Homo sapiens: one gene and its partner. The protein of the gene in region 2 purifies or fractionates together with the protein of the main gene of each other region. This does not show direct contact. Each region holds a gene or a part of one and is shown on either strand. Other genes may lie near its edges. The genes, in order: RIPK4 and AGT.

Region 1 (3,811 bases), on a different chromosome or scaffold from region 2:
CGGGAGGCCAGCAGAGCGGAGCAGTCGCTGTGGATCCCCTTGGGCTTGGCAAAGCAGAGAGGGGAAGCCAGCAGAGCACACACACTCTGTTGGAAGAATCTGCAGGATGGGTCCATTGACTGCATGTGGAGGGGAGAAGCTTGCAGGACCTCTCTGGAGCTGCACCAGGGGTCACTAGGCAGCTCTCTACGGTGGACGCGGGAGCACCCCAGGAGGAGCAGCTGGGGGGTGTGGGGGGTGGGCAGGTCGAGTGTGTCTGAATACACTCAAGGAGCAAAGAATCCCACTGGCCTTGGGAACAAGTGAAGCAAGTATCAGGAATGAACGTGAAATTATTATGAGACAAAACTTAGGGGAGCACGGCCTGCTTTCCTAGCGCTCTGGTTAAATGACCAACTAATGGAAAACAAGATGCCCACCAGTGTGCAGTGCTAGCCTGTGGGGGTCCCTGGGCTGAGCTGAAAGCTGCCCCATCACCAGCATACCATCGGCTGCTTCCTCCCTCTCCAGGGGAAATCCCTCTCCCTGCAGCCACAGGCTTGGGCCAGGCTCTGGGACCCATCAAGGGATGGGGGGTGCAGATCAGATCGTGGGACTCTCAACCCTGTCCCCAGTCTCAGTGAGCATTGGGAAAAAAGGAAGACGAGGACCTGATGCCAACGTCAAGCATCAGCTAAAATGAAACCGGTCACCAAAGAAGGAAAATGACACCTCTCAGCTCCCAGCCTTTCTCCTCCTCTGGGAACACCGGTTGGCTGAGGCCCTCATTTGTTATTTAAAGGAATACCAGCACAACTTCCAACCCGGCAACTGCCACTAACTTCCAAACCATCGGACTGGGACATGGTACCAGCTGCTGCTTCTCTTTTATGTCTTGTTAAGAATCAGAGTTATGATTTGTCTGTTTCCGATTGCTCAAATGTGGCCAGCTTGCCGCCCCTCCCCTACCAGTGTGGCCTCCCTCCTCCGGACACTCTGCCCCGGGGCGCTGGCGAAAGTCCTTCCGTAGGACTCAGACCCACATCCACTGTGCAACCGTGTGAGGCACACCCTCCTCGCCGGAGGGTTTTGAGGAAATGACAATTCGGGTGTTTAGAGGCCAGCCATTCGCAAGGGTCATTTTTCCACATTAAGTAGACATTCTGAGAGTGAACTCTCTAAGCCAAAGCTGACTGATAATAAACACGTATTCTGAGAACAATGTCAATCAAAGGAAGGCTGAGTAGCTTATTAAGTGGAAGCTCTGAGCCACTCCACAAATAGTGTTTTCTTTTATTTGCCCAAAGGGCTTAATACATAAAACCCCGGTGACTTCTGATTGCAGAGTGAGCTCATTGGCGACTCTAACAGCTACGGGCTGGCAGCAGTGCACACCCCTCCCCAGCGCACCGAGTTCAGCAAGTACTTTACTCTCCCTGCCCCGGGCTCTTTCTGCAGAACGGAGACCCCATTTACCTTACTTTAAAAGAAACAACAAACAAACAAAAAAGGGCCACTGCTGCTAGTTGGCTCCTGAAAGCGGATCCCGGCTAGAATCTCCTAACGGAGTCCACCCCAGCTTTGCGCAACTGCCTGAAGGGAGCCCGGCACGACTTCCCCCTTCCATGGGCCACACATTTGAGGGCACTTTCTCGAGGAAAATCAGCTGTCCTGGAAAAAAAAAGTCATTGTTTCCGTGGACAAAAGTGTTGTGACAGCATGATCCAAACTGGCTTGGGGTAGACAGGATTCCAGCTGAGGAAGGGGGTCCCGGGACCGCCCTGTGGGAGATCTGAGGCCCAGGAGTGGGGGTGGGGCGGCTCCCTTGCCTACCAGCCTGGATTTCGCTCAGAAGCACCAGCATGTCCTCAGAAACTTTCCACACTGTTTACCATCCAGTAACCACTGGGCCAAAACCCACACGACCCCGCCTTCCAGCCCCTCTCCAGGTGCTCCCTAGGCGCACATCTGGGAAACTCCAGCGGCTTTAGGAAGCTCCAGCCCTTCTGGGGTCGGGTGTCGCCCGGCGGCATTTGCAATTCAATAAGCCTGAAAGGGCCTCTTTGCAACAAGCTGCAAGAAGAGGCTTTTCTGATCAGGGAGGTTAAGAAGTGCTCAGGTACTCGAAGCACAGAAAGAACCCACCAATTGCTTTTGAGCAATGGCACTATTTTTTTTAATACATTTTTTTCTCCTAAGCAGTGTTTCTGGCTTATTTTAATGATTCTGGCTTATTCTGATGACCACACAAAAGGAACTGTAGATTTATTACTATTATCATTTTAACACGTGGAGAGATGCCGAATCCAGCCTAGGTGCTGGGGTGGCGGCCAGGGAGCACAGAACATCACACAGTCACATTCGCACCGTCTCCAAATCGCATTTCTTACTGTTGACAGTGAAGTCAACGTTTCTGGGTTGACCAGAAGCCCCTCTCGTCGGTGTTAATTAAAACACAACCTAAAAACTGTGCCTTGCTCCAAGCGCAGCTACGCTTAGGCACAGTTCAGAGGGGGTGGCATCCTATTCCCCTCTCCTTCGCTGCTGGTGAAAGCGTTGCTAATTCTGCTTCCACGCAGGAACGGGAAAAGCCCCCCCTCCCCCGCAAAAGTGTCCTGGGTCCTGTTTTGGGTTCCACATGAAAAATCTCTGGGCATTAATTAGGATTAACTTGGGGTTCAACTTTTTAAAGATACGGTGAGTAGCACTTAGATGAATTCGGTTTTCTCCTCATTTAGGGCTAGCCAAAGTGTATTTCGCCCTCCCAGGGAGGCCAATGGAGTAGCGAGAAATACGAGAAATATCATCACACCAATCATCTCTAAAAGGAACTTCTAAAGAAGTCCCAAGGTTCTTCTCCAGGCTCAGAAATTCCAAAGACCTGTGGACCAGGCCAGCTGCGGTTTCCCCTGCAAGCACGCATCCTGGAAAGGGGGAAAGAACTGCCCCGGGACATGGTCTTGTGCAAGCGGAGAAGCAATAAACGAAGGGAAAAGTGAGAAGCAGGGAGGTGGGGGAGACGGTGAGACCGCTCAGGTAACAAAGAGCTCCGAAGGAGAAACCTAGCAACTACCTTCAGGAAAATGCAGCCGGAAAATGTGTTTCATCATCTGTTAGCTGATGCCTCTCAGCGAGGCCTTCTGCACACCAATCCAATTATGTTCCCAGGGAGCCTCGGAGGGGTTCCCACACGGCTATTTTTAAAACTGACAAGAAACGGGCTTGTCCAATCGTCAGCTCTGTTGTTACAAACCTGGGGTTTGCTCAGGCTCGCCCCGACCAGCCAGGGCTGAATGTGGCAGGAGCGTCTCCCAGCCGGCGCCCCGCAGGCACTGGCTTCTTCTGAGCATCCCCTTAGCTGGGGGCTGGTAGGGGAGGAACGGGGCCTTTGGGATCACTTTATTCTCTCCAAACTGGTCACAGCACCCATCCCTACACCCCACCCTAGGCCCTGTGACCCCCACAATGAGGGTCAGCCAGGGAGGCCAGCTGCCTCTCCAAAGCCACCCCACAGGACCCTCCGAGGCACCGAGCCCCATGATGAAGGTAATCTCAGATCAATGGGGTGTCACCTGTGAACTCCCAGGAGGGCCCCCTGGCAGGCACTTCCTGTCCCTGGGAGCCTCGCTAAGTGTCTGGGGGCTGGGCGGCCCCCCAACCTTTCCTGCACAGAAAAGCAAGCTCACATGGCCTGGCGCAGCCTGCTCATCAAACAAGCCCCGAGCAGGTGCTGTGGCCAAGGGCCGGCTGAAGGCCTGGCCCAGGGGAGCTGCAGGGAGCCAGGAGACCCCAGACCACCTTGAGAGGCAAGCAGCGTTGGCCAGTGAAAATC
Region 2 (3,811 bases):
ACCCTGCAGTTTCCCGCTCACATGCCCTTCCGAGACTGAGTGCTCCGAGGACTGAGGACGAGAAATATGCCAGGTCTGCCACTGCCTTCTTACGAGACCCGGACCCAGGGGAGGCACAGCCATGCCCAGCTCCTGCCTGCCAGTTCTGTCCTCCCAGCTGCCCTACTTTCATGCTGGGACCTCCAATTCAGTACAAAGGGAGACCTCACTGTTTCTGAACCATCTCTACTCAGACTCCCAAGTGCCACGTGCCCAGGGGACTGTTCTGTGACAAACTTATACACAACTTCACCCTATTCTCCTAAGAACAACCGCAGAATAGGCCTTTCAGGATGAGTGGGAGGACAGCCGAGGGCAGGGATGTGCTAGTGTAAGGTCGAGGCAGAGGGTGGGCTGCTGTCATGGAAAGACCCCAGGTAACTGCGTCACACACAAATTTGTGTCCTTCTCCCACAACGGGCTCTCCCGAGTTCTCTGTCATCTGCACGGCCCTGTGAGCAGGAGGGGAAACAGAGGGCTCACCCCTGCCCCCAAGGCCCAGTGTGCAAATCCATTCATCACAACGAGGTTGTGTGAGTCTCCCCAGTAGCAAGGGCTGCTGAGGAATGGAGCCCTCGTTTCCGGGGCCTGCGTGGCCCACTCTGTATTCTATGACTGTGATGGGGGAGGGTGGGGGCCACAGGACAGCTGGTGGGCTCTGCCATGGCTGGGGCTAGACATGGATTAAAAAGTGAGTATGAGCAGGGGCCTCTAGGAGTGGTGGGATAGTGCGGTGGTGGCCACATGTCATTCTACGTGCGTCCAAACCTACAGAATGTAAAACACCAGGAGGGAGACTCAAAGAAAACTATCAACTTTGAGTGCTGAGGACGTGTCAGTGTAGGTTCGTCAGTTGCAACAAATGGGCCACGCTGGTGTGAGATGTTGATCACGGGGGAGGCTGTGTAGTGGGGGACAAGAGTTATATGGGAACTTTCTGTACTTTCTGCTCGATTTTGCTGTGAACCTAAAGTCACTCTAAAAAATAACATCTCTTAAATTTTTTAAAAAGTGAGTGTGTCAAACCACAGCCTTTGGGTCAGGACAGTTCTAGGTTTGAGTTGACCTGGCAGGTACCAGTGGCTTATGTCCCTTAAGGTGACAGATGCAAAACCCCCGGTTTGGTGCCTGGCATGTTGTGTGTCTTGCAGGTGGCGGTTAGGGCTGCCTCAGTGAACTCAAATGGCTGCATTTTACAGGAGAAATATTTGAGCCACACTTGCGGTCCTGTGGCCAGGAGAATGCAGAGTGGCCTGGGGGGGGCCAAGGAAGGAGGCTGAGGCAGGGCGAGGGGCAGGATCTGGGCCTTTGGTGTCTGCCAGCCCTCATTCCTGCCCCTGTCTTGGGTGACTCTTCCCTCCCTGTCTCCTGTCTGGATTTCAGGGAAGATGAAGGGCTTCTCCCTGCTGGCCGAGCCCCAGGAGTTCTGGGTGGACAACAGCACCTCAGTGTCTGTTCCCATGCTCTCTGGCATGGGCACCTTCCAGCACTGGAGTGACATCCAGGACAACTTCTCGGTGACTCAAGTGCCCTTCACTGAGAGCGCCTGCCTGCTGCTGATCCAGCCTCACTATGCCTCTGACCTGGACAAGGTGGAGGGTCTCACTTTCCAGCAAAACTCCCTCAACTGGATGAAGAAACTATCTCCCCGGTAGGAGCCTCCCGGTCTCCCCTGGAATGTGGGAGCCACACTGTCCTGCCCAGGCTGGGGGCGGGGTGGGGAGTAGACACACCTGAGCTGAGCCTTGGGTGCAGAGCAGGGCAGGGCCGCGGTGGCACGGGGCTGGGCAGGCGGCCTGTGTGTCTGTCTACCAGTCCTCTATCCAGCCAGCACCCAGCTCTCCAGTTAGTGTCTGTCTTTCAAGTGCAGGCAAGGTAAAGGAGGAGAGGAAGAATGCTTTTTCTACACTTACACTTGCCTGGTAGTTTTGGAGGGGGAGAAAACATTGCAATCCGCCCTCTGAGAGAGGACCATTTTGGTCCCACACCTGACACACAGCACACCTGTGACATCCAAGAGCTTCTTGGAACTGACTTGCCAGGAGGGTTCGGACTTCGCGTGAGCGGGGGTGGGGCCTTCTCAGGGAGCGTCCCTTGACTCCAGAACGCCCTTGCTGGCGGCTGGCGGCTGGGTGGGGATAGGTGTTGTTAGCTCCTCTTTCCTGCTGCAATTCCTTTCCACAGAGCCCTGGACTCAAACTACACATCACCCCAGATCATCGAGGCCTGGAAATCTGCTCCCAGAGGCAGGCATTGAGTGACACGATGGCTTGACATCAACTCTGGGTGTTTTTTATGTTTTAAAAATTGTGATGGTAAAATATACGTAACAAAATTTGCCATCGTAACCATTTTCGAGTGCACAGTTCAGTGGTACTAGGCCCATTCACACTGTTGTGCAGCCATCACCCCCGTCCATCTCCATTTATCTTCTCAACTTCCCAAACTGAAGCTCTGTCCTGCTGAAACACTAACTCTCCATTTCCCCTTCCCCTTGGCCCCGGCAACCACCACGATGTCCTCGAGGTTCACCCATGTTGTAGCACATGTCAGAATGTCCTTCCTTTTGAAGGCTGAATAATATTCCATTGCATGTGGTTACCACCTTTTGTGTATCCACTCATCCATCGATGGACACGTGGGTTGCTTCCACCTTTGAGCTGCTGTGAATAGTGCAGTGTACCCTGTAAACATGGGTGTACTGTCAGCTCTTATAAGTGCTTGATACATCACTGGAAATGTCCATGGGCTCTGAAGGATGCCAAAAGATGGAAGAGGCTCTATACGAAGATCAATCGAGTTGACATAGCAACGTGTCCAGCACGAGGTTGACACTGTACCCTCCTGCCTCTCTCCTTTTCATGGGTGTCATGTCATCAAGAACACTGCTGTGGCAGTAGTAAGACACAGTGCATTATTTCAGAGAATAGCATTTAAAAATTACCCAAGTAACACACCTTCAATGCAGCCAACCTAAAAACAGAATGCACCAAAGGACAACCATTCCTAGGTCCTCATCGGTAAATCTTCTATGTCCCTCACATAGTATTGCAAATGACATGAAGGATTTTTATTGTAGGTTTTGCTGAAATTTTCCCCAAGGGGGAGGATGACTTAGTTGGGTGATGGGGGGAGCAAACATCCCTGTCGTCAGGGTTGGGTGCAAGGAGCATAAGCCTGCCTGGCCTCTGGGAGAGCCCTCACTGTGTGGCCTGGAGCCTTCCTAACTGTGCATCATCTCCCCAGGACCATCCACCTGACCATGCCCCAACTGGTGCTGCAAGGATCTTATGACCTGCAGGACCTGCTCGCCCAGGCTGAGCTGCCCGCCATTCTGCACACCGAGCTGAACCTGCAAAAATTGAGCAATGACCGCATCAGGGTGGGGGAGGTATGTGTGAGCCTGTGTCTGTGCCTGACCTGGGTTCCAAGTGTGCACAGGGTGGGAGGCATGGATGTAAGGGACACAGAGGAGGCTATGGGTGGGGCCAGCAGGGCAAGAGGGAGCGGAGAGTAGGGCCAAAGGTGGGAGAGAAGTAGCCAGAGCATTCTGGGGCCTTCCAGGTGCAGAGCAGCAAATCCCTCCCCATCCCTGCTGTGCCTCCTCCTGCTAGGTGTGTGTTCCATGGTCCTGCTTGGCCTTGCCTTGCCTCAGGGTCCTCCAGGGTTCCTATAGTGGAGTTGAAACCGGGATGAAGACAGCAAGCACCCCTGGACCTGGTGCCCTGGGCCCAGCCCCTTCTTCAGGGAAATGCTGAGCAGCAGACAGAAT

What was found.
Region 1: the proteins of AGT (region 2) and RIPK4 purify together in Homo sapiens (affinity purification with mass spectrometry, with the first as the bait; 2 studies listed by BioGRID). This does not show direct contact.

Annotation. Positions count from the first base shown.
Region 1 is NC_000021.9:41,760,533-41,764,343, forward strand, and holds part of RIPK4 (receptor-interacting serine/threonine-protein kinase 4), read right to left. Parts: intron 1-3,811.
Region 2 is NC_000001.11:230,703,812-230,707,622, reverse strand, and holds part of AGT (angiotensinogen precursor), read left to right. Parts: intron 1-1,422; coding exon 1,423-1,690; intron 1,691-3,285; coding exon 3,286-3,430; intron 3,431-3,811. UniProt on the Homo sapiens protein: Essential component of the renin-angiotensin system (RAS), a potent regulator of blood pressure, body fluid and electrolyte homeostasis.